Linked DNA regions of Homo sapiens: regions 1, 2, 3 and 4 are each linked to region 5. The links come from fine-mapping of genetic effects on gene expression. A gene starts in region 5. Each other region holds a variant in brackets. All regions are shown on one strand. Distances are from middle to middle.

Region 1 (6,065 bases), 61 kb after region 5:
GCCAGATGTGGTGGCGCATGCCTGTAATCCCAGCTACTCGGAGGCTGAGGCAGAGAACTGCTTGAACCCAGGAGGCGGAGGTTGCAATGAGCTGAGATAGCACCACTGCATTCCAGCCTGGGCGACAGAGTGAGACTCCATCATAAATAAATAAATAAAATAAATTTAAAAAATAAAATAAAGTGGTGGATTTGGCTGGGCATGGTGGCTCATGCCTGTAATCCCAACACTTTAGGAGGCCGAGATGAGAGGATTGCTTGAGCCCAGGGGTTCAAGACCAGGCTGGGCAACATAGCGAGACCCCCTCCATCTCTAAAAAATATATAAAAAATAAAATGGTGCATTATTTGGCACCTGAATAATAAAGATGTTAACAAAACAAAAATGAGGTAGCTGTGGTATGATGGGAAGCTACTCATCCTCCTGAGTAGCTGGGACCACAGGCGTGCACCACCATGCCCAACTAATTTTTTTTAAATTTTGGTAGAGACAGGGTTTCGCCATGTTGCCCAGGTTGGACATGGAGTCAGGAGACCTGGATGAGCTCTTTGGACCAGGCCCTCCAAACACAACATCTGGAGGAACCAGTGAATAATTATCAATGTGCTTAAGTGTGGGGCACGATGCAGGTGCCCACTTGTGCTTGTGGAAACCAAGACTCACAATCAGAAAACACATGGCCATTTCAAGCAGGAATCTTTAAAGGAAAGAGAGCATCTACCTTCATATCCTCTGAAGATTCTAAAAAGGCAAATCCAAAGGGAAACAAGAGAAAAAAAAAAGCAAAAAAGGCTTTGTGAGATAACAGTGTTTTGAACAACTCTGGGATATCCTCATGTTGATCTTTTTTTTTTTTTTTAAGACAGGGTCTTGCTCTGTTGCCCAGGCTGGAGTGCAGAGACACAATCTCAGCTCACTGAAACCTCCATCTTCCAGGTTCAAGCGATTCTCCCCCACCTCAGCCTCTCGAGTAGCTGGGACCACAGGCGTGTGCCACCACGCCCAGCTACTTTTTTAAAATTTTGGTAGAGACTGGGTTTCGCCATGTTGCCTAGGCTGATCTCGAACTCCTGAGCTCAAGCAGTCTCCCCACTTCAGCCTCCCATCCCAAAGGGCTGGGATTACAGGCATAAGCCACCTCACCTGGCCTCATTCTGGTCTTTTTTTTTTTAGTGGGGAAAACCACAATCTTTCGGAACCTTAATTCCTTCCTCTGTAAAATTGCATCTGGGGACTCTCTGAAATGAAATAAAATGCCTGGACAACTAACAAATGCAAAGGAAACTCACTCCACTCTGGTCAGGCCACGTGAGAGAGAGCTGGTACCTGGATTCTGCTGAATATTGTCAGCTTGGACTTGGAGGGATCTGCCGGGGGCCCGGCCGATGAGAAGGAGGCCATGGCTACCTGGCTCGGAGAAGCCGCACAGCACATATCCATCTTCGCCTTCTCTTTCCGGAAGCCGGAGAATCGCGGGGCCCTGGGGTTGCCCAAGAGCCGGTAGCCTCCACCCCGGGAGCAGGCTGGGCCCTTTTCACCTTTTGTGATCCTTGAAGCCGCGCCATTCTCGGCTGGGGCCTGCTTCCCTGGCAGCGAGGCTCCTGGTGGCTCCTCCCCACCTAACTGGGTCTGCCGTTGGCCTGTGGAGGGGAAGATGTCCTCCAGGTCCAAGGTCCCTTTAGAGGATCGCAGCTGCTTGGCCAGAGAAGAGATGTCTGGATTCCTGGAAGGGTCCAGAGACGGTGCTGCAAGGGGCGTTGGAACCGCGGCCACTTTCAGTCCCCCCTTTGCGTCTCGTCTCGTGCTGCCGGGGGAGGCCTCTCTGGGAACCCCGGGTGTGGTTTTTCTCCTGCGGGCTGGGGAGCCCTCTGCCTCGGGGTTTCCAGGGCCGGCGTGGAGAGAGTCCACAGCAGGAGCCAGTGGTGGGGGCTGCTGCGGCCACGGCCCCTGCAGCGGCCTCAGGGCGGCTGGTTTGCCCTCGGGCGCAGGGAGCTGGGAGGAGACTGCTGCCACCTGGGCATGGGAGAAGATCCGCTGGGACTTGGTGATCATCTGGAACACCTGCATCTGCTCGTGGCTCACAAGAGGTTCCTGCGACTTGAGGAAGAGCTGGCGGAAGAGCGGCGAGGCATCCGCAGGGAGCCCGCCTGCCTTCTGGGCCTCCTGGAGGCCGGGCTCCCCGGGGTTCTGGCACAGGAAGGAGTCGCAGTCGACCTTGACCTTCTTGGGGGCGCAGGGGTCATCTTCCCCGCTGGCCGACCTGGGGTCGCTCGGGGCCTCCGCGGGGACCCTGAGGAGCGCGGCAGGGAAGGGCAGAGCATCCTCCAGGCCACCGCCGGGGCCGGGCGGGGACTCCTCCGAGGGGCTTCCGCTGCTGGGTCCCGGGCCAGACTCGGAGCCCTCCCGCGAGGGCACGGCCGAGGGCTTGTGGACAACAAACACGTTGTTGCCTTTGCTTTTGGGACAGCCCGGCAGGTTCCGGAGCCACTGGAAGCTGTGGCTCGATGGCTGGGAACTGGCAGGGACCGTCTGGCCTCGGAAGAGAGGCAGGCAGGCAGGCACGGAGCCGCCTTCGGGCCAGCACTCCGCGGTGGACCGGGCCTGGAGCAGCGCGGTATCTGGCTCCGGCTCTGGCGGGTCGGGGGCGCCGTTCTCGGCGGCCCTGGAATTAGGGGCTGTGAACACGTCAGTGGCCGGCTCTTTCTGTGGGAGGCAAGGCTCCTCGGGAAGCTCGGTGTCCAGCGCTGCTGGGGCCGCGTGGGGGCCGGCTGGGGTGCAGGACGAGGACCCCGATGAGGCGGGGCAGGGACAGGCAGTGTTCCTCCCTTCGCTGTCTGAAGCCCCCGCCGGGGCTGGGCCAGGAGAAGGGGTCTTCTGGTGGACGATGCTACTCACGATGCGGCGCAGGAGGTCCCGGTGGGGCAGGAGGGAGCCGGGGGACCTGGCCTCTGGGGGCACCAGGGACCGCAGGCTGCTGGGGGGCGGCTGGCCGGCCGACTCGTGGGCGTGGGGGGAGTCCCCGCAGGCCTCTTCCTCCGGGGGGGCTTCCTTCA[G/A]GATGCACAGGCCGTGATGGACCTCGTAGTGCCGGCGCAGAGAGCGGTAGTCGCAGTAGCTCTTGCTGCAGCCCTGCTCGATGCACACGAAGGGCTTTGTCTTCTGGTGGGTGAGCATGTGCCCGGTCCTGGAGCCAGACACAAGCAGGGGCGTCACCGGGGCACCTGGGACCGGGCTTTCTGCTGTAGGACCCTGGTGGCCCCCAAAAGTCTGTGGTACAGTTGCACCACAATTCAGAAATTGTACTCAGCCCCCACGAGGAAAGACCACCCAGCAAACCCTGCTTCGGTCAAAGCCATCTGGCAGGGGAGTTCCTCTCCCCTCACCTTTAAGCAAACCCCTTACAGAAAAGTAAAAAAAAAAAAAAAAACCAGCGGGGCACAGTGGCTCATGCCTGTAATCCCAGCACTTTGGGAGGCCGAGGTGAGTGGATCACTTGAGGTCAGGAGTTTGAGACCAGCCTGGCCAACATGGTAAAACCCGTCTCTACTAAAAATACAAAAAATTTAGCTGGGTGTAGTGGCACATGCCAGTAATCCCAGCTACTGGGGAAGCTGAGGCAAGAGAATCACTTGTACCCAGGAGATGAAGTGCATTGCAGTGAGCCGAGATCACACCACTGCACTCCAGCCTGGGTGACAGAGTGAGACTCTATCTCAATAAACAAACAAACAAATAAATAAAATTTTAAAAAATACAAAAAAAAAAATCCACTGAGGCCAGATCAGATTTCCCCAGAGTGGGTTCCCAAGGAACACAAAGACCTCCAGAGTTGCTCCTCAAGGACTTTGGCACAGCTAATAAATAAGTTTTGAAAAAACACCATTCACTCCTTGGAGGTTCACGATGCACAGTAGCAAATTTAATTAATTAATTTTTTGTTTTTGAGACGGAGTCTTGCTCTGTCACCCAGGCTGGAGTGCAATGGCACGATCTCGGCTCACTGCAACTCTGCCCCCCAGGTTCAAGCGATTCTTGTGCCTCAGCCTCCAAGTAGCTGGGACTACAGGTGCGTGCCACCACGCCCAGCTAATTTTTGTATTTTTAGTAGAGACGGGGTTTTGCCTTGTTGGCCAAGCTGGTCTCGAACTCCTGACCCTCAAGTGATCTGCCTGCCTTGGCCTCCCAAAGTGCTGAGATTACAGGCGTGAGCCACTGTAGCCGGCACACAGTAGCAAATGTAAAAGCCACACAGAGAGAGACCTGTTTAACTTTCAGTGTCTCTCAAACTTATTTGCCCAGAGAACTGTTTTTGGTTTTGTTTTCAAAAAGCCCCTATTAGCATTCCTGAGAACCAGAATTCTGCAGAATAGACTGGAGGAGATGCTAACTTGGGGACGATCCTTCCTTTAACAAAGGAATCTGTGCCTTACCGTAGGAGACCCCTAAGAAGATGCTACCTGGAACCCCCCACAGCAAAGAAGCCAATTTACAGAGGCCCAATCCATAGAAACATTATAGAGCCAAACAGCCAAATGTGCCTATAGTTTCTGCAAACAGAAATGCATGTAAATATGTATTGCATCACACCTACCTCTGCATTAACACATTATAAATATAAGCAGAGGAGTACATCACCCTCTGGGCCCCCAACAGCCCTGCTCTGGACAGTCCTAGTCGATGTGGACTAAATCATAAAGTCTTTCCCCAAAGGCTCACCCTCAGCCTCTGTCTGAGGGAAGCAACAGAGAGGGAATCAGGAGACCTAAGTTCTACCCCCAGCTATTACCAACTTGTGACATGAGCAAATTGGCTCCTTTTCCTGGGGTAGGTGTGGGTGAGAGGATAAGATGAAAGATGGATTAGTCAAAGCCCCTTGTGAAAGGGAGGAGCCCCATAAGAATGCTAAGTACTTTCATCTCCCACTTGCAGGTCTCCTGGTTTGAAAAACATGTGTCTTTCTTTCCCCCACAGGCAAGACAAGCTTATCATTTCCAAGACATTAAGCGGTGGCTCACACCTGTAATCCCAGCACTTTGGGGAGGCCGAGTCACGCAGATCACTTGAGAAATCCTGTCTCTACTAAAAATACAAAAATTAGCCAGGCATGATAGTGCATGCCTGTAGTCCTAGCTACTCAAGATGAGGAGGCAGGAAAATCACTTGAACCCAGGAGGCAGAGGCTTGCAGTGAGCTGAGATCACACCTCTGCACTCCAGCCTGAGTGACAGAGCAAGACTGTCCAAAAAAAAAAAAAAAGGAAATTTTGCTCCTGACACTTTTTAAGTCAAAAGTTAAAAGGAAAAGAATGAGTTTTTTAAAAAAGAAAAAAAAACAAAAAAAAAAATAGAAAAGAAAAACAAAGCTGGGGCCGGGTGCGGTGGCTCACGCTTGTAATCCCAGCACTTTGGGAGGCTGAGGCAGGTGGATCACAAGGTCAGGAGTTTGAGACCAGCCTGGCCAATATGGTGAAACCCCATCTCTACTAAAAATACAAAAATTAGCTGGGCGGGGTGGCATGCGCCTGTAGTCCCAGCTGCTCTGGAGGCTGAGGCAGGAGAATCGCTTGAACCTGGGAGGTGAAGGTTGTAGTGAGCCGAGATCGTGCCACTGCACTCCAGCCTGGGTGACAGAGCAAGACTCCATCTCAAAAAAAAAAAAAAAAAAAGAAAAAAAAAGAAAAACAAGGGTTAATTCTCCATTGCCATGTTCTAGAAGCAGGCGTCTCATCTTTCCTGTCTCGTGCTATCCCAAAACACAGAGAACACAGATCCGTTTTCCTCAGACACCTACCAGAGACTCAGGACATAGCTCTATAAAGTTAGCCCAACTCCTCCCATGACACAATTGACTCAGAAGCCAGCTGTTAGGCGTTTTTAACCCACAAGCAGCCCATCTGCAAACAGAAGCAGGGGCTTCCTCACAGGCGTGAATTTAGGGGCTGGGACAGCAGCGCCCACTCTCTTCCCTGCGCTCTGATGGTGTGAGAAGAACGGAGTGGGCTGGGCACGGTGGCTCACACCTGTAATCCCAGAACTTTGGGAGGCCAAGGCGGGAGGATCACTTGAGGT
Region 2 (6,065 bases), 91 kb after region 5:
GGGTTTTACCCGCCCCCGGGGGCTCGCGCGCCGGGCCTCGCGCCTGGCGCCTCGCGGGGCTCCCAGCGGCCTCCCGCCTTCCCCGCGCCGCCCGGGGCGCACGCGCAGCCCGGCCCACCCCCGGATCTCCTCGCTCACGCGCGGCGCAGGCGCGCGTACGTGACCGCGGGCCGCCTCACGCCTCCCAGAGCGGCCTCGCGCGTGCCTCCTGGCCGCGCGCTCTCGGCTGCTTCTCCGAGGGGCGGGGCTTGCCGCGGGCGGGAAAGGAGGCGGTTGGTCGCCATTTTGGGAGGGGGCGGTTGAGGGCGGAGAGTGAGAAGAGTGAGCCGGGGAGGAGCGGCGGGGGGAGGGGCCAGTCCCCCAAGACCCGCATCCCGAGGCCGAGAGTCCCGGGAGCCTCCACTCCAGCCATTGTTCCTGGTGGGCGGTGTTAGAACGCGGTGGCGGCCGCTGGATGGCTGCCCCCAGTCCCCGGAGGGGCCTCTGAGCAGCGTCCTGGTGCTGGGAGGCCGTATCGTCTGTTTCCGAGGACCCTGTCGCGAGCGCGGGAGTCTCTCAGGGTCTCTTCTGCGTCATTGGGTGGGGGAGATGTGGGGCGAGCTGCTCCTCCCTTTTTTTAAAATTTTTTTCAGAGACAGGGTCTCTCCCTGTTCCCCAGGCTGCGATCACGGCTGCCGCACCCTCCCCTTCCTGGGCTCAGGCGATCCTCCTGCCTCAGTCTCTTGAGTAGCAGCGACCACAGGCGGGCGCCGCCACACCTTGCTAATTTTTACATTTTTTTTAGAGATAAGGTCTCGCCATGTTGCCCAGGCTAGCCTGGTTCCCCTGGGCTCAAGCGATCCTCCTGCCTCAGTCTCCCAAAGCATTGGGATTATAGGTGAGAGCCACCGCGCCCAGCCTATTCCTCCCTTCTTTGGGGAAAGGCTGAGCCATCTGGGGCCCCTGCTCCGTGCTGAGCTGTGTTGGGAAGGGCGGTAGGCCCTGGTGCCGACTGGCCAAGGACCATCTTTTTTTTCTTTTTTTTTTTTTTTGAGACAGGGTCTTGTTCTGCCGCCCAGGCTGGAGTTCAGTGGTGCGATCTCGGCTCACTGCAATCTCCGCCTCCCGGGTTAAAGCGATTCTCCTGTCTCAGCCTCCCGAGTAGCTGGGATTACAGGCACGTGCCACCACGCCCGGCTAATTTGTTGTATTTTCAGTAGAGACGGGGTTTCACCATGTTGGCCAGGCTGGTCTTAAATTCCTGACCTCGGGTGATCAGGTGATCCGCCTGCTTCTGCCTCCCAAAGTGCTGGGATTACAGACCTGAGCCACCGTGCCCGACCTGGCCAAGGGGTTTGAACTGTCCTGCAACTGAGGCAGATAATTCATTCCTTAGAAACGGAGTGCTGAAGATCTGTGGAGAATGAGAGCAGATTAGTGGTTGCCCGGGGTGGAAAGGGGCATCGCGGATCTTATCTGGGTAATGGAAATATTCTAAAACTGAGCTATGGGCCAGGCGTGGTGGCTCACGCCTGTAATCCCAGCTCTTTGGGAGGCCAAGGTAGGAGGATCCCTTGAGCCTAGGAGTTTGAGACCAACCTGGGCAACCTAGTGAAACCCTGTCTCTAAAAAAAAAAAAAAAAAAAAATTAACTGGAGATGGTGGCATGCGCCTGTAGTCCCAGCTACTTGGGAGGCTGAGGCAGGAGGATCGCTTGAGCCTGGGAGTCCAAGGCTGCAGTGAGCTATATGATCAGGCCATTGCACCCCAGACTGGGGGATAGAGCGAGACTCTGATGGGGGAAAAAAAGGGTTATGGTGATGGTTGCACAACTCAGTAAATTTCTAAAAATCAGTAAGTATACACTTAAGTGAGTGACTTTTATGTAAATTATACCTCAAAGTTTTTTTTTTTTTTAATTGATTATTGGGGGAGGAAACAGAGGAAAGAAGAGGGCCTGTCATCTTGCTTTAGGATCCCTTCATTTAGCAAGTTTTTATTGGGTCTCTGTTCTAGGTGCTCAGATATAGTGTCTGGGTCAAACAGACATTCCTCTCCTCCTGGAACTTATGTTTTAGAGCAGTGCTGTTCAGTAGTAATAAAATGCAAACTTCAAGCACCAGCCACTTATGTAATTTTACATTTTCTAGTAGCCATGTTTAAAAGGAACAAAATGTAAAGAAGGCAGGTGTGGCGGCTGGCACTTGTAGCCCAGCTACTTGTGAGGCTGAGACAGGAGGATCACTTGAACCCAAGAGTTGGAGACTGCAGTGAGCTATGGCCCTGTCTGTGTAGAGCCACTGCACCAGCCTGGGCAACATAGTGGGACCCATTCTCTTAAAAAAAAAAAAAAATGGCTTGGGACGGGTGTGGTGGTTCACACCTGTAATCTCAACACTTTGAGAGGCTGAGGCAGGAGGATTGCTTGAGTTCAGGAGGTCAAGACCAGCCTGGGCAACACACCCAAACCTAAAAATCAAATAAATAAAAGTAAATAATAAAATAAAAGAGAAAGAAACACAAGTGAAATTAATTTGGTAATATTTAATCCCAAATATTTCAACACATTATCAGTATAAAAACTAAGAGATAATTTACACTTTTGGGGCTGTCTTTAAAACCCCACATATACAGTATTTTACATTCACGGGACATCTCAATTCAGACCAGCCACATTTCCAGGGCTCCATGGAACCTTGTAGCGAGTGGCTCTGGTACTGACAGCATACCTCTACAGGGGGACAAGCAAATGCATTTACTTTTTTTGTTGTATTTTTTTGATACAGGGTCTCACTATGTCACCTAGGCTGAAGTGCATTGTTGTAATCATGCCTCGCTGCATCCTTGACTTCCTGGGCCCAAGCTATTATACCACCTCAGCCTCCTGAGTAGCTGGTACTACAGGCCTGCACCACCACACCCAGCTAATTTTTTGTATTTTTAGTAGAGACAGGGTTTTGCCATGTTGGCCAGGCTGGTTTTGAACTCCTAGGCTCAAGCAGTCTTCCTGCCTTGGCCTCCCAACATGCTGGGATTACAGGAGTGAGCCACCGTGCCTGGCTGCAAATACATTTATAATGCAGTATGTTATACCTTGAAGAAAAACAAAGGAAAGAGGATGGGGTCAGAGGGTATTGTTTTATACAGGTCAGTAAAGGCTTCTCTGGTGAGATTGCATTGAGCAGAGATCTGAAGGAAGTAAGGAAGGGTCCTATGAAAATATCTGGGGGAAGAAGAGAGGGAACAGCACGTGCACAGGCACTGAGGCAGGAAGATGTGGAACCCTTTTGAAAGACAGCAGAGAGGCCAGGCATGGTGGCTTATGCTTGTAATCCCAGCAATTTGGGGGGCCCAGGTAGGCTGATCACTTGAGCCCAGGAGTTCGAGACCAGCCTGGCCAACATGTTGAAACCCCATCTCTACTAAAAATACAAAAAATTATCTGGGCATGGTGGTGCACACCTGTAGTCCCAGCTACTC[G/A]GGAGGCTGAGGCATGAGAATCTCTTGAACCTGGGAGGCAGCGGTTGCAGTGAGCCGAGATCACGCCATTGTGCTCCATCCTTGGTAACAGAGTGAGACTCTGTCTCAAAAAAAAAAAAAAAATCAGAAGAAGAGAGACCAGTGTGGCCAGAACCACGTGAGTGAAGAAACTAGGGGCAGATGGCATAGGGACTTACAGGTCATGCTAAGGCAGGAATTAAACTCCTGGAAACAATTTCAGAGGGTTCTTCCTTTATTTAGCACACTTTTTGTTTTGTGGGGTTTTTTGTTTGTTTCTTTTATTTTCTTTCTTTTTTTCTTTTTTCTTTTTCTTCTTTTTTTTCTTTTGAGACAGAGTCGCGCTCTGTAACCCAGGCTGGAGTGCAGTGGCACCATCTCGGCTCAATGCAACCTCTGTCTCCTGGGTTCAAGTGATTCTCCTGCCTCAGCCTTCTAAGTACCTGGGATTACAGGCTCGTGCCACCACGCCCAGCTAATTTTTTGTATTTTTAGTAGAGACGGGGTTCCACCATGTTAGCCAGGATGGTCTCCATCTCCTGACCTCGTGATCCACCCGCCTCAGCTCCCAAAGTGCTAGGATTACAGGTGAGAGCCACTGTGCCTGGCCTTCTTTTCTTTTTCTTGTTTTCTTTTTTTTTTTCGCTTATTTAGCACACATTTTAAAAATGCTTTGTTTCAGCCATGTAATCTCTCTTCTTGATGGAGGAAATAAGGATCCTAGCCACTGGACAGATGAGAATCTAGTTAAAAAACAGGACTTAAGCTCCTGAAATAAATTAGCATCTTCTGTCATTGATAGACATTGAACACTTCATGGACACAGAAGATAAATGCAACACATAAACAAAAAATTAGCATTAGCCAAGCATGCTTGTAATCCCAGCACTTTGGGAGGCCAAGGCAGGTGGATCACCTGAGGTCAGGAGTTCGAGACCAGCCTGGCCAACATGGTGAAACGTCCATCTCCACTAAAAATACAAAACTTAGCCAGGTGTGCTGGTGCGTGCCTGTAATCCCAGCTACGCAGGAAGTTGAGACAGGAGAATTGCTTGAACCTGGGAGGTTGAGTCTGCAGTGAGCCGAGATCGCACCATTGCACTCCAGGCTGGGCAACAGAGCGAGACTCTGTCTCAAATAAAAAAAAGCATTTAGCATTTATTTTAAAGGCCTACAAATTAAGGTGACAACCTAATAAAAAAAAAGAATATAAGATTTGAAGAGGCACTTCATACAAGAGGAAACATGAAGTGAGGACTAACCACAACAACAAGAGAATGCAAATTAAAACCAAAGATACCGCAGCACACCTACCACTTCGGTGAATCAAAAAACATTTTTTTTTTTCTGTTTGCTGAAGCAAGACGAACTGAGTATACAGGACTAGTGACAGGTAAAATTGGTAGAACCACACTGACAAACCCAGGGGTTAACTCTAGAAAACTTCTTGATCATGTGCGCCAAGAGATGCAACAGAAGAACAAGCAGCAATGTTTGTAATAGCAAAAAAAAGAACAGAAAAGAAAGGAAAGAAACAGATTGGATCCTGGATTCTGGATTGAATAATCCTGGAACAAGATAAATAAATAAATAAATAAATAGGCCAGGCATGGTGGCTCACGCCTGTAATCCCAGCCCTGTGGGAGGCCGAGGCAGGTGGATAACTTGAGGTCGAGAATTTGAGACCATCCTGGTCAACATGGTGAAACCCCATCTCTACTAAAAATATAAAAATTAGCTGGGCATGGTGGTAGGCACCTGTAATCCAGCTAAGGCTTAGGAGGCTGAGGCAGGAGAATCGCTTGAATTTGGGAGGTGGAAGTTGCTGTCAGTGAGCTGAGATGGTGCCACTGCACTCCAGCCTGGGAAACAGAGTGACAGTGACTTCATCTAAAAAAAAAAAAAAAGACATTACTTAAAAAACTAGAGAAATCTCCAACAAAGGCCAGGCATCTGTAATTCCAGCACTTTGGGACCCCAAGGCAGGAGGATCACTTGAGCTCAGGAGTTCAAGACCACCCTGGGCAACTTGGTGAGATCCTGTCTCTACGAAAAAATTTTAAAAGTTACCCAAGCATAGTAGCACACACCTGTGGTCCCAGCTACTCCACAGGCTAAGGCGAGAGGATTGCTTTAGCTCAGGACTGCATTCCTATCTGGTTAACAGAGCAAGACTGTCTCAAAAAAAAAAAAGAAAAAATCTCAACAAAGATTGGAATTTAGTTAATAGTAATGTATCCACTTTTTGGGGTTTTTTTTTTTTTTTGAGACAGAGTCTCGCTCTGTCGCCCAGGCTGGAGTGCAGTGGCGCAATCTCAGCTTGCTGTAAGCTCCGCCTCCCGGGTTCACGCCATTCTCCTGCCTCAGCCTCCCGAGTAGCTGGGACTACAGGCGCCCGACACCACGCCCAGCTAATTTTTGTATTTTTAGTAGATGGGGTTTCACCGTGTTAGTCAAGATGGTCTCGATCTCCTGACCTCGTGATCTGCCGGCCTCGGCCTCCCAAATGCTGGGATTACAGGCGTGAGCCACCACGCCCAGCCTTTTTTTTTTTTGAGATGGAGTCTGGCTCTGTCTCCCAGGCTGCA
Region 3 (6,018 bases), 180 kb before region 5:
AAATATTAGCTGGGCATGGTGGCGGGCGCCTGTAGTCCCAGTTACTCGGGAGGCTGAGGCAGGAGAATGGCGTGAACCTGGGAGGCGGAGCTTGCAGTGAGCCGAGATCACGCCACTGTACTCCAGCCTGGGCAACAGAGTGAGACTCCATCTCAAAAAAAAAAAAAAAAAATTAGCCGGGCGTGGTGGCTGGGCGCCTATAATCCAAGCTACTTGGGAGACTGAGGCAGGAGAATCTCTTGAACTTGAGTGGCGGAGGTTGCAGTGAGCCGAGATTGTGCCACTGGACTCCAGCCTGGGCGACAAATTGAGACTCTGTCTCAGAAAAAAAAAAAAAAGTTATTGGAACAACTGGTGAAATTTCAGTGAGGGCTGAGTATAGTGTGGTATCAGTGGCATATTTCCTTATTTTGATAAATATATTGTGGTTATGTCAGAGAATATCCTGTCATAACCGCAATATAAGAGATACACAGTAACAAATTTATGGTAAAGGAGCATGATGTTTCCAAAGTACTCTCAAATGATTCCAGGAAAAACATAAGTAGACATAGATATATACGCCTGTATTATTTTTCTAGGGTTTACCAGCCCCCACAATTGCATGAGCCAATTTCTTTTTTTCTGTGTGTGTGTGACAAAGTTTCGCCCTTGTCACTCAAGGCTGGAGTGCAATGGCACGATCTCGGCTGACTGCAACCTCCACCTCCCGAGTTCAAGTGATTCTTCTCCCTCAGCCTCCCAAGTAGCTGGGATTACAGGTGCCCACCACCACACCTGGCTAATTTTTTGTATTCTTAGTAGAGATGGGGTTTCACCATGTTGGCCAGGCTGGTCTTGAACTCCTGACTTTCAGGTGATCCACCCGCCTTAGCCTCCCAAAGTGCTGGGATTACAGGCGTCAGCCACCGTGCCCGGCCTCTGTCTTTTTTTTTTTTTTTTTTTCGAGACAGGGTCTTGCTCTTTTGTCCAGGTTGCAGTGCAGTGGCACAATCATAGGTCACTGCAGCCTCGACCTCCTGGGCTCAGGTGATCCTCCTGCCTCTGCCTCCTAAGTAGCTAGGACTATAGGTGTGCTCCACCACACCTGGATAATTTTTTGTGTTTTGTAGAGATGGGGGTTTCACTATGTTACTTAGGCTGGTCTGGAACTCCTGGACTCCAGTGATCTTCCCACCATGGCCTCCCAAAATGCTAGGATTACAGGCATGAGCCATTGCTTCTGGCCCCAATTGCTTTCTTTTTCTTTCTTTCTTTTTTTTTTTTTTTGAGGCAGAGTCTCACTTTGTCGCCCAGGCTGGAGTGCAGTGGTATGATCTCGGTTCACTGCAACCTCTTCCTCCTGAGTTCAAGTGATTCTCCTGCCTCAGCCTCCCAAGTAGCTGGGACTACAGGTGCCTGCCACCATTCCCAGCTACTTTTTTGTATTTTTATTAAAGACGGGGTTTCACAATGTTGGTCAGCCTGGTCTCGAACTCTTTACCTCAAGTGATCTTCCCTCCTCGGCTTCCCAAAGTGCTGGGATTACAGGCGGGAGCCAACGCACCCGGCCGCTTTTACTATTCTTGCAACTTTTTTCATTTGACATTCCATCGAAATAAAAAGTTAAAAAAATTCTTTTTCTTCTGAGGGGGTGTTTTATCAAGGACACCTTTATCAAGGGTCCCGGGCCTAAAAATGTTAAGAACCCATGATTTACGGCTGAGGAGGCAACTTCCATCCAAAATCCTAAAAGTCAAGTTCCTGTGACCTGGCTTCCTGAACCTCCCCGCTCCTGCGCCCCCTGGAGGTCAGGGCTAGAACAACACGGCATTCCTATAATGCTCCAAATCGCCACAAATCGACCTTGGAAATCCTGGGTGAGTAACGCAGACTGCGCACATGGCTTCAATTAGCGGAACTAAAACTTGCTGAACATCGTGTACCCGCGTGTCCATGGCCAAACACAAACTCCACCTTTGTAAAAGTCTAGGTGAATTCCCAGCTGAATTCAGAAGCGTGACAGGAATGGGACTTTTCATTGGTGTCTTTTTCTTTTTTCTATTTTTAGAGTGGGGAGGAGTGTATTTCTGGATTGTTTAAATATTTACAATGAGCATGCATTTCCTTTGCAATTAAAAGAAAACCAGATTTTTTTTTTTTTTTTTTTGAGGCAGAATGTTGCTCTGTCCCCAGGCTGGAGTGCAGTGGCGCGATCTCGGCTCACTGCAACCTCTGCCTCCCGTGTTCAAGCAATTCTCCTGCCTCAGCCTCCTGAGTAGCTGGGACTACAAGTGCCCGCCACCACGCCCAGCTAATTTTTGTATTTTTAGTAGAGACGGGGTTTCACCATGTTAGCCAGGATAGTCTCAATCTCTTGAACTGGTGATCTGCCTGCCTCGGCTTCCCAAAGTGCTGGGATTACAGGCATGAGGACCGCACCCGGCCGAAAACCAGATTTTTAAAAATTGAAGTTTGCTGTAGAAAAATACTGTGGGAGAAAGTTGTGGGTGGTGTTTTGTAGAGTCGCAGAAGGACATGGGAAAAAAAAATTGAGTGTGTTTCTGTAATCATCATAACAATCACACTCATTGTGCCGTAGGCTCCAAGGGAGGGCTCTGAGCTGTGGTTACCAGATAAAATACAAGATTCTCAGGTAAAATGTGAAAAAAAAAATATTTTTGTGATCTTAACTCACTGCAGTCTTGATCTCCTGGGCTGAAGTGATCCTCCTGCCTCAGCCTCCCAGGTAGCTGGGACCACAGGCACGTGCCACCATGCCCAGCTAATTTTTAATTTATTTTGTTGAGATGGGATCTCACTATGTTGCCCAGGCTGCTCTCAAACTCCTGGCCTCAAGCGATCTTTCCTCGGTGTCCCCATGCCCTGGGATTACAGGTATGAAGCACCAGGCCCAACCCTGAAATTTAAAGTTAACTGGGCAGTCTGTAATGTGTTTTTGTTTGTGTAGGTGTGTGTGCTAAATCAGGCAACCCCCTATTCTGAGCAGAGGAGTGCTTTGATCTGACTTAGATTTTAATAGGCTCCCTCTGGTTGCTGGTGGAGATGAGACTACGGAGGGGGGGCAGTGAAGATCCCAGAGAGGAGGCTGCTGTAATGGTCCAAGCAGAAGGTGATAGTGATTTGGATCAGGGTAACAGAGCCGAGGTGGTGAGAGGTTGACAGGTCATGCATCTATTTCGAAGGAAAGGCCATGTCCAGGCTCCTTAGCTCGGCATTCAAGGCTTCTCTCCACCACTGGACACACTTACTCTCTAGCTTCTCAGACCCTGTTGCAGATAGAATCATGATCCCCAATGATGTCCACATCTTAATCCCCTGAACCTGTGAACAGGTGACCTTCCATGGCAAAAGGGACTTTGCAGATAGGATGAAGTTAAAGATCTTTAGATGGGGGAGCGATTATCCTGGATTGGGTCTGGGTGGGCTCAGTGGAATCACAAGAGTCCTTATATGAGGAAGATAGAAATTTGAGACATACGGTAGAGGAGGAGGTGATGAGACCACAGAGGCAGGGACGGGCGTGGTGCAACCACAAGCCAAGGAATTTCAGGAGCCACCTGAAGGTGGGAGAGGCAAGGAACAGATTCTCCCCTGGAACCTCTGGAGGGAGTGGTGACATCTTGATTTTGGACTTCTGGCCTGCAGAACCATGCCAAAATAATTGTCTGGCTTTTTTTTTCTTTTTTTTTCCTTGAGGTGGAGTCTTGCTTTGTCGCCCAGGCTGGAGTGCAGTGGTGCCATCTTGGCTCACTGCAACCTCCACCTCCCGGGTTCAAGTAATTCTTGTGCCTCAGCCTCCCGAGTAGCTGGGACTACAGGCATGCACCACCACACCCAGGTAATTTATGTATTTTTAGTAGAGATGGGGTTTTGCCATGTTGGCCAGGCTGGTCTTGAACTCTTGACCTCAATGATCTGCCCGCCTCAGCCTCCCAAAGTGCTGGGATTGCAGGCATGAGCCACTGCGCCCGGTCCTGGTGTTAAGCCCGCAGTTTGTGCTAATTGGTTACAGCAGCCTCGGGAAGGTAATCTAGGCTCCTTCCTTGCCCCAGGCTCTAGGAAGTATCTTAGCCCC[C/T]AGCCCTGGGCTGCAGACCTGTACCAGTCCATGGCCTGCTAGGAACCATGCAGCATCGCAGGAGGTGAGTGGCAGGTGAGTAAGTGAAGCTTCATCTGTATTTATAGCCACGCCCCTTCGCTCATATTACCGCCTGATCTGTCAGATCAGGGGCGGAATTACATTCTCATAAGAGCGTGAACCCAGGCCGGGCGCAGTGGCTCAAGCCTGTAATCCCAGCATTTTGGGAGGCTGAGGCGGGTGGATCACGAGGTCAGGAGTTCGAGATCAGCCTGGCCAAGATGGTGAAACCACGTCTCTACTAAAAATACAAAAATTAGCCGGGTGCAGTGGTAGGCACCTGTAGTCCCAGCTACTCGGGAGGCTGAGGCAGGAGAATCGCTTGAACCTGGGAGGCGGAGGTTGCAGTGTGCCGAGATCGTGCCACTGCACTCTAGCCTGGGTGAGAGAGTGAGACTCCATCTCAAAAAAAAAAAAAAAAAAAAAAAGAGCATGAACCCTGTTGTGAACAGCGCATGTGAGGGATCTGGGTTGCAAGCTCCTTATGAGAATCTAATGCCTGATGATCTGTCACTGTATCCCATCACCCCCAGATAGGACCATCTCGTTACAGGAAAACAAGCTCAGGGATTCCACTGATTCTACATTATGTTGAATTGTATAATTATTTCATTATATATTACAATGTAACAATAATAGATGGAGATGGTTGTGGCTTGTGTAGTTGGGGGACAGGGTAGCTCCATTTTCTATTGCCAACTTTATAACCCTAGAAGGATGATTTTTTTCTTTTCTTTTCTTTTTCTTTTCTTTTTTTTTTTTTTGAGATTGAGTCTTGGTGTTGTCAGCCTGGGCTGGAGTGCAATGGTGCAATCTCTGCTCACTGCAACCTCCGCCTCCTGGGTTCCAGCAATTCTCCTGCCTCAGCCTTCTGAGTAGCTGAGATTACAGGCACCCACCACCACGCCTGGCTAATTTTTGTATTTTTAGTAGAGATGGGGTTTCACCATATTGGCCAGGCTGGTGACGATGGTTTTTTTTTTTTGAGACAGAGTCTTGCTTTGTTGCCCAGGCTGGAGTGCAGTGGCGCAATCTTGGCTCACTGCAACCTCTGCCTCCCAGGTTTAAGCAATTCTCCTGCCTCAGCTTCCCAAGTAGCTGGGATTACAGGCACCTGCCACCACACCTGGGTAATTTTTGTATTTTTAGTAGAGACAGGGTTTCACCATGTTGGCCAGACTCGTCTTGAACTCCTGACCTCAAGTGATTCATTTGCCTCAGCCTCCCAAAGTGCTGGGATTATAGGTGTGAGCCATTGCACCTGGCCCTAGAAGGAAGATTTAACAGTAAAATATACTTAAATGCTGGGCTACCTCCGCAGACTAGCTCAGCCTCTTTGGGTCTCAAATCAGCCTGGCCGGGAGGCTGAGTGGAGGTTACAGTCTCTGCTTTCTTGAATCCCAAGGGAGGGGTTTAAGCCAACTGCATTCCTGAGCTTTTGCCCAGAAGGCTGGCGTCTTAGGAGGAAAGAGATAGATGGCTCCAGGCCGGGCGCAGTGGCTCACACTTGTAATTCTAGCACTTTGGGAGGTTGAGGTGGGTGATTGCCTGAGCTCAGGAGTTTGAGTCCAGCCTGGCCAACATGGCGAAACCCCGTCTTTACTAAAAATACAAAAAATTAGCCGGGGGTGGTGACACACACGTGTAATCCCAGCTACTCGGGAGGCTGAGGCAGGAGAAGTGCTTGAACCCAGGAGGCAGAGGTTACAGAGAGCCGAGATTGCACCACTCCACTGCAGCCTGGGCGACACAGCAAGACTCTATCAAAAAAAAAAAAAAAAAAATGAGAGAGAAGAGATGGCCCCAAATAGGGAAACCAAGGCCAGGAGAGGGGCCGAGCCTGCACAGGAGCTTCCTCGGTTTTCCGAGCGCCGGCCCCC
Region 4 (6,065 bases), 240 kb after region 5:
TCAATCGCTTCTCTCTGCTCTCCTCAGCATTGCTTGTTGGTGAATAAATGAGTGAAGAAGCAAAGGTGAGAATGAGTGGATGAAGGAGTGAATGAGGAAATGAATGGTGAAAGGAATGAATGAATGAGCATGGGAACCCATGGCTGGGATGGGTGCTTCATAAGAGCAAGAATCTTGTCTGTGTGTTCTCTGCGGTATCCCAGGCTCCCAGGACAGGGCTTGGCACACATGAGACTCTCAGTAAGTATTGCTAAATAAATGCAAAATATTTAACTTCTCAGCCTGGCCAACATGGTGAAACCCCGTCTCTACTAAAAATACAGAAATTAGCCAGGGTGGTGGTGCATGCCTGTAATCCCAGCTACTCGGGAGGCTGAGGCAGGAGAATTGCTTGAACCTGGGAGGTGGAGGTGGAGGTTGCAGTGAGCCACATTCATGCCACTGCACTCCAGCCTGGGCGACAGAGTGAGACTCTGTCTCAAAAAAAAAAAAAAAAAAAAAAAAAAAAAAAAAAAAAATTATCATCTGCTATGGCAAGAGCACAGCTATCCAGCATGAACTCTAGTTGCTGGATCGTGGGGAGATACAACAGGTCCTGGGGAGGAGCTGGGGTGATAGAGGCATGTGGCAGGCTTGGGGGTTCCATAGAAGCACAGGGGGATCTCTTAGCAAACATGTCAGTATTTTTAACAACCTATATGTACATACCGACGCACACCTGTAATAACTGCTTAATGAATGAGCAAATGAAAAAATGGAGGCCGTGAGGCTGGGCGCGGTGGCCCACGCCTGTAATCCCAACATTTTGGAGGCTGAGGCAGGAGGATCAGTTGAGCTCAGGAGTTTGAGACTAGCCCGGCAGCCCGGGTAACATAGTGAGATCCCATCTCTACTCAAAAAAAAAAAAAAAAAAAAAAATTAGCCAGGTGTGGTGATGCGCGCCTGCAGTCCCAGCTACTAGGGAGGCTGAGGTGGGAGGATCACCTGAGCTCCGGGAAGCAGAGGTTGCAGGGAGGCGTGATCCCGCCATTGTGCTCGAGCAAAGGAAAAGGGGGATGATTGCCCCCTGTAGCCAGATGGCTTGAGGGGCTGGGGCCAGAGCGAGGGGGGAAATTCTGGGCACTGGAGAGCCAGAGCAGTAGTGCCCACTGAGGGCCTTGGCTATTTTGCCCAGACAGGATTTGGACAGCCAACAACGTGAACATCTTTACAGTCCAATATGCAAGAGAATGGGATACTACTGAGAATGGCTGGAGGGTGGGGGTCTGATTTCTGCCCCTTGCGCCCCTGTCTCTCCACTCCCACTCCAGGCTACGACTTCCCGGCCGTGCTGCGCTGGTTCGCGGAGCGCGTGGACCTCATCATCCTGCTCTTTGATGCGCACAAGCTGGAGATCTCGGACGAGTTCTCAGAGGCCATCGGCGCGTTGCGGGGCCATGAGGACAAGATCCGCGTGGTGCTCAACAAGGCCGACATGGTGGAGACGCAGCAGCTGATGCGCGTCTACGGCGCGCTCATGTGGGCGCTGGGCAAGGTGGTGGGCACGCCCGAGGTGCTGCGCGTCTACATCGGCTCCTTCTGGTCCCAGCCCCTCCTCGTGCCCGACAACCGGCGCCTCTTCGAGCTGGAGGAGCAGGACCTCTTCCGCGACATCCAGGGCCTGCCCCGGCACGCAGCCTTGCGCAAGCTCAACGACCTGGTGAAGAGGGCCCGGCTGGTGCGAGTGAGTAGTCCTGAGGGCTGGGCGCGCATTCTTGGAGGAGGTTTCCTCGGTCCTCTCCTACCAGTGCTGTGAGTCCCTGACTTATCAGGGCCCAGGTTAGTTAGTTCTCTTGAAGTTGGGTCATTCTGGCACAGAGTGAAGCCGGGAGGAAGAACTGTATGGAGAGACTCATTCCTCTGCCTTTGGATTTCTGTGTCAACTCCGTGTCACCCTGGCTTCTCTGTCCTGGTATTTCTATTTCTTCTTCCTCTTCCTCCTCCTCCTCCTTCTCTTCTTCTTCTTCCTCTTTTTCTTCTTTCTTCTCTCTTTCCTCCTCCTCCTCTTCTTCTCCCTCCTCCTCCTCCTTCTTCTCTTTCTTCCTCCCCTTCCTCCTTCCTTCCTTCCTTCCTCTGTTCCTCTCTCCCTTCCTCCCTCCTCCCTTCCTCCTTCCTTACATCCTCTTTCGTTCCCTCTTCTTCCTTCTTTTTTAAGAGATGGAGTCTCGCTCTCTTGCCCTGGCTGGAATGCAATGATGCAATCACAGCTCACCACAGCCTTGAACTCCTGGGCTCAAGTGATCCTTCCTCCTTAGCCTGCCCCAAGTAGCTGAGACCACAGGCACGTGTCACCACGCCCAGCTAATTTTTTATTTTTTGTAGAGTCGAGGTCTTACTGTGTTGCCCAGGCTGGTCTTGAACTCCTGCCCTCAAGTGATCCTCCCCTTTTGGCCTCCCAAAGTGCTGGGATTGCAGGCATGAGTATGTTGAATTTTTGAACTTCCTATAAAATATAGACAGACAAATACTCATTATTCTACCCTCTTTATTTTTTGATAATTTATAAGATTGTGGTTCAAAGGTTTCCAAGTTCATTGGTTTATTCCACAAATATTTCTTTTTCTTCTTCTTTTCTTTTTTTGAGACGGAGTTTTGCTCTTATTGCCCAGGCTGGAGTGCAATGGCGTGATCTCGGCTCACCACAACCTCCGCCTCCTGAATTCAAGCGATTCTCCTGCCTCAGCCTCCCGAGTAGCTGGGATTACAGGCATTCACCACCATGCCCGGCTAATTGTGTATTTTTAGTAGAGTATTTTTAGTTGGTCAGGCTGGTCTTGAACTCTCAACCTCAGGTGATCCGCTCTCCTTGGCCTCCCAAAGTGCTGGGATTATAGGCGTGAGCCACCGCGCCAGGCCCACAAGTATTTCTGGAATGCTTTCTGTACACATGGTGCTGGGGCTGGGGATGGAGGGAACAGACAAGGTTCCAGCCCTCCTGGGGCTCATCTTTTTTTAAATTTAATTAATTAATTTATTTATAAGCTAGTCAAATTTAGCAGTGGGGGTGGGGAGTTGCATGCCAACTTTACTGACACTAATAAGTTCTGATAACCAAGGCCAGGTGCGGTGGCTCACGCCTGTAATCCCAACACTTTTGGAGGATTGCTTGAGCCCAGGCATTGAAGACCAGCTTGGGCAACATAGTGAGACACCATTTCTATTAAAAAAAAAAAAAAAAGTTCTGATAACCCACTACCATTGGACCAGCCCC[G/A]GGGCTTATCTTTTGATGGAGGGAGACAGAATAAGTAAACAGACATAAAATAACAATGAAGGCTGGGTGCGGTGGCTCACGCCTGTAATCCCAACACTTTGGGAGGCCGAGGGGGGAGCAGATCACTTGAGGTCAGGAGTTCGAGACCAGCCTGGTCAAGATGGTGAAACTGCGTCTCTACTAAAAATACAAAAATTAGCCAGGTGTGGTGGCGGGCACCTGTAATCCCAGCTACTTGGGAGGCTGAGGCATGAGAATCACTTGAACCCGGGAGGCAGAGGTTGCAGTGAGCTGAGATTGTACCACTGCACTCCAGCCTAGGCGACAGAACGAGACTCTGTCTCAAAATAAAAAAAAAAAAAAAGATGAATTTATTACATCTTAGGCGCTTCACAGCACCCGTCTCCCATGACTCTTGTTTGATTGTGGCCACAGATTGTCCCCTTCTCTCACTCCTTTCCTCTGTCCTCATCTCCCATTCCCTTCCCAGCGTCCCCTGCACTTCACGCTGGTGGCCTCAGTCCTGTGCACTTGCTGCTCCCTCTTCCTGGAAACCTCTTCTGCCTTCTTCCCCCTCCCACCTGGCCATCCACAAGGCTCACTCCCTCCTCACCCCTTTCAAGACTCTGCTCAAATGCTCCCTTCTCAGGAAGGCTGTCCATGCCCTCCTTTGAATGAATATAACTTCCCCCATATGCGTCCTTCTTTACCCTAACCCTGTTGTCCTTTCCTTTCCTTTCTTCTCCTCTCCTCTCCTTTCTCTCTTTCTCTGTTTCTCTTTCTCTCTTTCTTTCTCTTTCTCTTTCTTTTTCTTTCTTTCTTTTTTTTTTTTTTTGAGACAGGGTCTCCCTCTGTTGCCCAGGCTGGAGTGCAGTGGTGCGATATCAGCTCACTGCAACCTCCACCTCCCGGGTTCAAGCGATTCTCCTGCCTCAGCCTCCTGAGTAGCTGGGGTTACAGGCGTGTGCCACCACACCCAGCTAATTTTTTGTATTTTTAGTGGAGACGGGGTTTCACCATATTGGTCAGGCTGGTCTCGAACTCCCGACCTCAGGTGATCCGCCCGCCTTGGCCTCCCAAAGTGCTGGGATTACAGGCGTAAGCCACCACACCCAGCCAATCAGGGCTCTTTGAATTCCTTCACTGATTTATCCCCAGTGCCCGGAACAGAATTGGTGCTCTGTAAATATTTATTGAATGAATGACATTGAACAAACAGTTGCATTGAACAAAATCTCCTCTATGCCTGGCCTGGTGTTGGGTGGTGCAGGAGACACAACAGTGACCACGATGGTTCCAGTCCTGTCCTGCTGGGGCTCCCAGTCCTAAATAATGAAGGCAGTTCCAGGGCTCAGTCCTCACTGGGGCTCCTGGAGAGGAGACAGATCCATCCCCAGGCACCGATGACCCAGTGTGGTCAGAGCTGGGGCGGGGTAGCTGGGGCAGGCAGAGAGGGCTTCTTTGGAGGAGAGGGCATCTGAGGGGAAATGTCAGTGTTGAACCCAGTGTAGACAGTGTGCTAACTCAATTAGAGGCTGAGGATGTGGCTGAGATCAGAGGTGGTGTGGGCTGTGTCCGGGAATCTGTGCTTTGTCCCTAGGGCACTGGGGAGCCATGAAAAAGTTCGGAGCAGGGAAAGGAGATAATTAGACTCAAGCTACCTTTTGGAGGGTGGATTCAAGGCAGGAGAGTCTAGGAGCCTGGAGACCAGGCAAAAGGCTTGGAGGTTCCTGGATCAGGACAGGCCTTGGGGAGGGAGAGGAGAAAGGAGAGCGCGGGTTTCAGAGCGATTTTGGATGTCAGATGGAACTTTCTCAGGGGGAGGCTGCCAGGGTGGAGGCGGGGCAGGAAGCTGGGCAGGCAGGGAGGCCAAGAAGGTTCTAGGGGGTGGAGGAGCCTGAGGTGTTGGTTTAAGGAGCAGCGAGAGTGGGTGAGTCAGAGCCCCCACCCCCACCCCAGGAATCCTCCTTCGGAGGGAGCGGCCCACTGTGGACCAGGCTGCCACTCCTGGAACCTTCGGAATTCACCTTGCGCTCCTCTGCCCAGGCGGCTCTGCAGTGTCTCTCTCTCTCTTTTTCTGTCTCTATGTCAGTCTCCTTTCTACCTCTCTCTCAGTCTCTTTCTTCTCCATTTTTACTTTTTCTTTTATTCTAACTCCCTTTCCTTTTCTTTCTCGCTCTGCCTCCTCCTGTCTCTCCATCTCTCCCCCGCTCCGCCGCCGCCCTCTCTCTGTCTTCCTCCTGGTCTTGCTTAGACTCCCCCAGGTTCGTTCCCGCGGGTCCCTTGGCGGGAGCTGGAGCACAAGGCCCAGGGACAGAGGGGTGGGTCCGGGCCAGACACCTGGTGCCCCCGCCGGGCTGGGGGCGGCTCCGGAAACCCAGACAAACCCCGGAGTCAGGGACCCAGCCCCGGCCCAGCCCGCCCTCTCACCTTATCTCTTCCTGGCACCTTCCCCTGCTTCCTCTCTGGAAAAGCCATCAGCGCCCTCCCGCCTACCCTCCTTTGGTCCCTACGGAGCCGCCCTTCGGCCCTGCCCCCTGGCTCCATTGGCCCGCTCTCACAGGCCCCGCCCCCAGCCCGGCCACACCCCTGCCCTGATTGGTCCTTCAGACCATTAGGCACTCCCTCCCCCTCTTCCTGCAGGTTCATCCATGGCTCCCCAGTGCCGTTCAGGACACAGGAGCATGGGATTTAGGGTCCGCTGTGACCAAGGCTCACTGCCCCTCCTTTGCCCCGTGTCGCACCCCCACCCCTGCTCCTCACATATGAGTCCGCCACACTTGGTCGTCACCAACAATAGCCATACTGTTAACCT
Region 5 (5,868 bases):
CATCTGTGTTCTGGAATGGAATCTGGAACTCTAGAATGGAACCCACACACTTTGGGGTTCTAGCACCTTGGTATTCTAGATGCTCTATGTTCTATCTCCTCGAAAGATGAGAATGTCAGGACTTTATCATTACAGAACCTCAGAAGATTCTGGCTTCTATCGTACTGTAGAATATTCAAATGTTGGAATCTTAGAGCCTACGACTCTAGAAAACTTAGCATCTCTGATCTTGGAATGTCAGACTCTAGAACATTAGAATCTGGGAATTCTAGATGTGCAGAATTCCCAGAATTCACAGGTGCTCCATCAACTCTCTCAGATTATCTAGTTCAGGAATGGCAGTGTGGTGGCCCCTTGGCCATCCGGTCCATGGCCACCTTAAAAGCATGATGCTCCGGCCAGGCGTGGTGGCTCACGCCTGTAATCCCAGCACTTTGGGAGGCCAAGGCGGGCGGATCACCTGAGGTCAGGAGTTCGAGACTAGCCTGGCCAACATGGCAAAAACCTATCTATACTAAAAATACAAAAATTAGCCGGGCATGGTGGTGTGAGCCTGTAATCCTAGCTACTCAGGAGGCTGAGGCAGTAGAATCACTTGAACCAGGGAGGTAGAGGTTGCAGAGATCGAGCCACTGCACTCCAGCCTGGCAACAGAGCGAGCATCTATCTCAAAAAAAAAAAAAAAGAAAGAAAAAAAAAGTGCAATGCTTTAAAAAACAAATGTAGAATCTGATTGTCTATGGACAAGTTCGTGGTCTCCAGTTAGCTACAGCTTTCCAACCTCAGCTGCATATGTGTGTGTGCACATGTGCTCCCTGTTATATTACATTTGTGCTTTCCATTCTCACATGACCTCTCTGGTCCCCAAAGGCATTTTAGTTTAATTTCATTTTATTTTATTTATTTATTTTTGAGACAGAGTTTCGCTCTTGTCACCCAGGTTGGAGTGCTGTGGTGCAATCTTGGCTCACTGCAACCTCCGCCTCCCGGGTTCAAGTGATTCTCCTGCCTCAGCCTCCTGAGTAGGCTGGGATTACAGGCACACACCACCATGCCCAGCTAATTTTTGTATTTTTAGTAGAGACGGGGTTTCGCCATGTTGGCCAGGCTGGTCTCAAACTCCTGACCTCAGGTGATCCGTCTGCCTCAGCCTCTCAAAGTGCTGGGATTACAGGTGTGAGCCACCGTGCCCGGCTGGCATTTTAGTTTTCAATCCCTAATCTAGTACAACCTCTTTATTTTCCAGAAGGGGAAACAGACTACAGGGGTCTGTAAGTAAAGAAGGGGTTCGAGAAGCCAGGGTTTCTACATTTACAGTGGAGTGGGCGTCGATGCGCAGGGGACACTCACTCCGCATGGCACAGCTGGAACGGAGTGAACTGGAGCTCCAGGTTCAGGCAGCTCTCTGTAGGCAGGGCACAGGCAGGTTAGCATGGGGGACCTGCTGGGGACTCTCTCCCTCCTCCCGTCCACGCCTCACTCACGGGCAATAGAGTCAAGGTTGTACTCAGAGCCGGGCTCGTAGTCGCAGTAAATGTTCAGGAAGGGGCTGCCCTTGTCCCCTGAATCCTGGCGGAGGACACGGGGTTCAGGGGAGGGCAGGGGTGGCAGGAGGGATCCGGGGCGGCTCAGTGGAACTCACCATGTGTGTAAGGAGGAGGGCGAAGGGAGGTGGAGGGGGCTCTAGGTACCTTGATGAACGTGATCCCCACAACCAGACCCCGCTTGGGGGGTGACTTGTTGAAAGTGTCGATGGAGACAATCTCCGCATCCACTGGGAGGGGAGAGTTCTAAGTTCAGTGTCAGGCAGACTCATGCTTCCAATCTCCCCAACATGGTGAGCTCTGGCTACCGCAATGATCATGCCCTCTGGTCTGAGTCCTGACCACCATCACCTGATCTCTGTTCCCTGGGTACTAGGGATCCTGACCTGTAAGTCTGAAGAATCCTGAAACCCTAGGCTCATCCGGGCCCCAACTATGCCTGCCCGCTGATCCCAGTGACCCCCTTAAAACCACCTGATCCCATTCTTCCAGCACGGTGACCCGGCTCAGACAGAGCCTCAGAAGCCTTCTCAACACCACGTTCCAGGCCCCCGCCCCCCAGCACCATAGCGCCACCCACCGGGAATGTAGTTGAACTGCAGCTCCTTGGCCACTGGCCGGATTTTCTGTCGGAGGTCTTGGTAGCGGAAGCCGAGCACCTTGCCTTTAAGGGTGGCGGCCAGCAGCTCCCCGCGCCCGCCGGCGCCGCCTGCCAGCCCGTACACATTGCTCTGCGACGAGAAGCGCGTGAAGCTGTCCTCGCGCAACGGACAAGGCCCCGCGGCCACGGCCGCCTCCCCCATCATGCCCCTCAGTTAAGCACCCTCTCCGCAGCCCCCGCCCCAACCCGCACTACCCAACCTACGACTCTCTAAGCGACCTGAACCGCCGGGTGCCCGGCCGTTGCGCGGGCTGATGACGTACGGAAGCTGCCGGCGTTGCCCTCTCCCAAGATGGCGGCCAGGTCGCCTGCTCGGGCCTCCCAGGCGACTTTGCCCCACTGCGCCCGCGCTCTCTTCTCCTTTCCATTTCTGGACCAAGGGGCTGCCATAAGGAGTCTGTGACTAGAGATGGGAGGTGGTGGCCACGGCCTCTCGCTGTATGCTGTGTGGAAGGTCGAATCATCATCATCATAAAACTTAATATTGCCCTTATGTGCCAGGAACTACTGTAAGTGCATTCCATCTAATACTTTATTAAAAATTCGCAAGGGGGTGGAGGTAGGTACTTAAATCCATTTTAGAGATGAAGGAATTGAGGCACAGAGGGGTAAAGTAACTTGCCTAAGATCACACAGCTAGTAACGAGCGGTCAGTACTGGAAACCAAACAAGGTAACTCCACAGTTCACTATTTTTTTTTTTTTTTTTTTTGAGACGGAGTCTTGCTCTGTCACCCTGGAGTGCAGTGGTGCGATCTCGGCTCACTGCAACCTCTGCCTCCTGGGTTCAAGCGATTCTCCTGCCTCAGCCTCCCAGCAGCTGGGATTACAGGCGCCACCACACCTGGCTAGTTTTTCTATTTTTAGTAGAGATGGGGTTTCGCCATGTTGCCCAGGCTGGTCTGGACCTCCTGACCTCAGGTGATCCGCCCACCTCGGCCTCCCAAAGTGCTAGGATTATAGGCGTGAGCCCCCTTGCCCGGCCTATAGTTCATAATCTTAACAGTATCACCTTTAAAATAATTAATACATTCTTCTTGCCCCCAAGGAAAAATGATCCAGCTATAATAACCACCTCCTTTATCGAACACCTACTTGGTGACAGTCATGCTGGCTCTGATAATCTGATTCCTTACAACTGTTCTGCAAGGGCCTACTGTTACCCTCCCTGCCGGTTCACTTATTCAGGATTCATTGAGCTTTTACTATGTGCCCGGACGTCCTTTGCAAATCTGTCTCACTAATCTTTGCAAGAAAGAAACCTCTACAAAGAGGTTTATTATCCCAGTTTAGAGAGAATCAAATGGAGGCTCAGAAAGAGTAAGTCCACTGACTGATATGCTAGCAAGTGGTGGGGACAGGATGTAAACCAGGTGTTTCCGACTCTGGGGCCTTCAGGGGTTCCTGTCTGTGCTGCTTTGTCCCTAGAAGGCCATGGAGGTTTGGGTACTATGTGCACATCTGTGTATCATTTCCAGAAGACATGGGTTGGCCAGCTGTCCTGGACACCTCGAGCACACACAGACTGCAAGCTCCATGAAGGCAGCAGGCTGATCTCCCTTGATCACGGCCTTATCGCCTGTACCTGGAACACAAGGCCTGACACAAAGCAGGCATTCAGAAAATATGTGTCAAAAATCACAAACTATGTGCTGAGCATGTAAGAGACAGCTCTTACATGATGGAAAGTTCTCAAAGGCAGACTGGATAACGGAGGTGGCAAGGAATTTGTGATGATTCCAGATTTCTGGATGTGGAGAGTAGAAGTTCCTGGAGGGCAGTCTGGGAATGCCGTCAGTGCTGCTGTATTCCCAGGGCCTGGCATGCAGCAGGTGCTTAGTGAATATTCGCTGAGGGAGTGGCACGTGGGTCTAGTGCCACTTCAGCAGTGCGTTTCCTTCAGGCGTCTTCCCGCCCTAGTAACCTATAAGCCACATGTTGAGCGGATGAATGAAAAAATGAAGTTACAGGTTAGGAAGGAATCATCCTGTTAAGAGGTTTCCAATCCTAGCTGCACACTTGAACTGCCTATGAAGTTTTAACAAAACAAACCAAAACAGGCCGGGCCTGGTGGCTCATGCCTGTAATTCCAGAACTTTGGAAGCTGAGGCAGGCGGATCAACTGAGGTCAGGAGTTTGAGACCAGCCTGGCCAACATGGTGAAACGCTGTCTCTGCTAAAAATACAAAAATTAGCTGGGCGTGGTGGCGCACGCTTGTAATCCCAGCTACTCGGGAGACTGAGGCAGGAGAATCGCTTGAACCCGGGAGGCAGAGGTTGCAGTGAACCAAGATCGCACCACTGCACTCCAGCCTGGGCGATAGAGCGAGACTCTGTCTCAAAAAAAAAACAAACCCAAAAACCCCCAAAGGGTAGGAAACCTCAGTCAAACCACAATTTATCAGAGTGCGGCCCCAGTCTGGATACTTTTATTTTTGCACCATCATGCCTAATTTTTGTATTTCTAGCAGAGACAGGGTTTTGCCATGTTGGCTAGGCTGCTCTCGAACTCTTGACCTCAAGTGATCCGCCTGCCTCGGCCTCCCAAAGTGCTACGATTACAGGCATGAGCCACAGCACCCAGCCCCAAGTCTGGATACTTTTAATGACTTTAAAGCATAGCCAGGGCGGACCATCACTGATTTAGGTCATGGATGACAGAAACAGATTCTCACACTATCCTTCAGCCAGCACCCATGATGGGGGCAGACATGGTAATCAATTTCAGGTCTCAGAAGTCTTTGCTGCCATTATCAGTGGACTGGAGCTGTGGGAGAAGCTGCAGGGGAGAGAGGAGCAGGGCAGGTGTCAAGGAATTTGAACCTCACCTGCACTTCTCTAGGCTTTCTGGGCTGGAGCCCCTCTCCCAGGAGTCCACCCTGGTTTCCTAGGCAGCCCCTCCTCTGTGCAATTACTGCCCCTGCTCACTTCCTGACATTTTCCCATCATGCCTGGGCACTGAGCCTCCTTCAGCTGTCTCCTCTGTAGCGAGGGGCCCTGCGCGGGGCAGGGTAAAGCACATGTGTACCAGACAGGGCCCCCAACATGCACATTGTGGAGTGTGGTGGAGGCAGCTGGTTTCTGCCCACCTTTCCTGGGCAAAGGCTCCTGCTATCTCCTCCCCCACTCCCCAGACCCACTCGGGCCTCAGACTCTGCCCACCAAAGCCGCTTCCTCCCCCGTCCTGTGACAGATGGAACAACTGTCACCGGGGCGTTCAGCCTTCCTGCCAGAGAAATGTGGACATGGGAGATTCGGTGGGCTTCCACCCATTCTCATCCAAAGCAGTCATGAGGACCGTCACATTCGACCCTCCCACTGGCTCTGAGGGGTGGCATCACCACCGTGCATCCCAGTTGAGGAAATCAAGGCCCCTGGACCCCAAGAACCCAGAGAAAGATCAAGATGGGCGCTCTGGGACTCCCAAGCCAGAGCTCCTCCCCAGGCCCACCGTCCCTGGGTCTCCCCCACCTAGAAACTGACCCAGCCCACACGTGTTTCAAGGATGCATGCGCCTGACCTCCCAAGAGCTCGCCCAGAGTCTGGGGGACCAGGAGTGTGAGAGGGACTGGTGACTGGCCCAGGGGCAGAGTGGGTAGCAGAGGTGAGGAGGAAGAGAGACTCATGCAAAAGTGTTGTTTTTTATTTTCTTTCTTGGGCCAGC

Evidence for each region. PIP is the estimated chance that this variant, and not a neighbour inherited with it, causes the effect.
Region 1: its variant is fine-mapped to the expression of KPTN in whole blood (TOPMed, PIP above 0.99). The same link has a PIP of 0.9 or more in fibroblasts, lung, sun-exposed skin and thyroid.
Region 2: its variant is fine-mapped to the expression of KPTN in testis (GTEx, PIP 0.95).
Region 3: its variant is fine-mapped to the expression of KPTN in tibial artery (GTEx, PIP 0.95).
Region 4: its variant is fine-mapped to the expression of KPTN in whole blood (TOPMed, PIP above 0.99).

What each region holds. Positions count from the first base shown.
Region 1 is chr19:47,542,800-47,548,864 of GRCh38, forward strand. It overlaps ZNF541 (zinc finger protein 541), which reads right to left. Exons shown (of 17, transcript NM_001277075.3): 5 at 1,327-3,181. Among named protein-coding and RNA genes, the nearest start is that of ZNF541, 27 kb to the right of the region's middle. The variant G/A (reference allele first, on the strand shown) is at 3,054.
Region 2 is chr19:47,573,074-47,579,138 of GRCh38, forward strand. It overlaps ZNF541 (zinc finger protein 541), which reads right to left and starts at 75. Exons shown (of 17, transcript NM_001277075.3): 1 at 10-75. RefSeq lists an enhancer at 4,802-4,881. The variant G/A (reference allele first, on the strand shown) is at 3,460.
Region 3 is chr19:47,303,670-47,309,687 of GRCh38, forward strand. It overlaps a transcript of C5AR1 not described here. Among named protein-coding and RNA genes, the nearest start is that of C5AR1, 3.2 kb to the right of the region's middle. The variant C/T (reference allele first, on the strand shown) is at 4,079.
Region 4 is chr19:47,724,502-47,730,566 of GRCh38, forward strand. It overlaps EHD2 (EH domain containing 2), which reads left to right. Exons shown (of 6, transcript NM_014601.4): 4 at 1,311-1,723. It overlaps LOC124904733 (a long non-coding RNA gene), which reads right to left and starts at 5,010. Exons shown (of 2, transcript XR_007067279.1): 1 at 4,912-5,010; 2 at 4,423-4,620. RefSeq lists an enhancer at 997-1,763. The variant G/A (reference allele first, on the strand shown) is at 3,251.
Region 5 is chr19:47,481,811-47,487,678 of GRCh38, forward strand. KPTN (kaptin, actin binding protein) reads right to left here and starts at 2,409. Exons shown (of 12, transcript NM_007059.4): 1 at 2,125-2,409; 2 at 1,692-1,774; 3 at 1,485-1,569; 4 at 1,351-1,405. The coding sequence starts at 2,350. NAPA-AS1 (NAPA antisense RNA 1) reads left to right here and starts at 2,472. Exons shown (of 4, transcript NR_038452.1): 1 at 2,472-2,714. It overlaps NAPA (NSF attachment protein alpha), which reads right to left. Exons shown (of 11, transcript NM_003827.4): 11 at 5,827-5,868. RefSeq lists enhancers at 2,334-2,623, 2,654-2,783.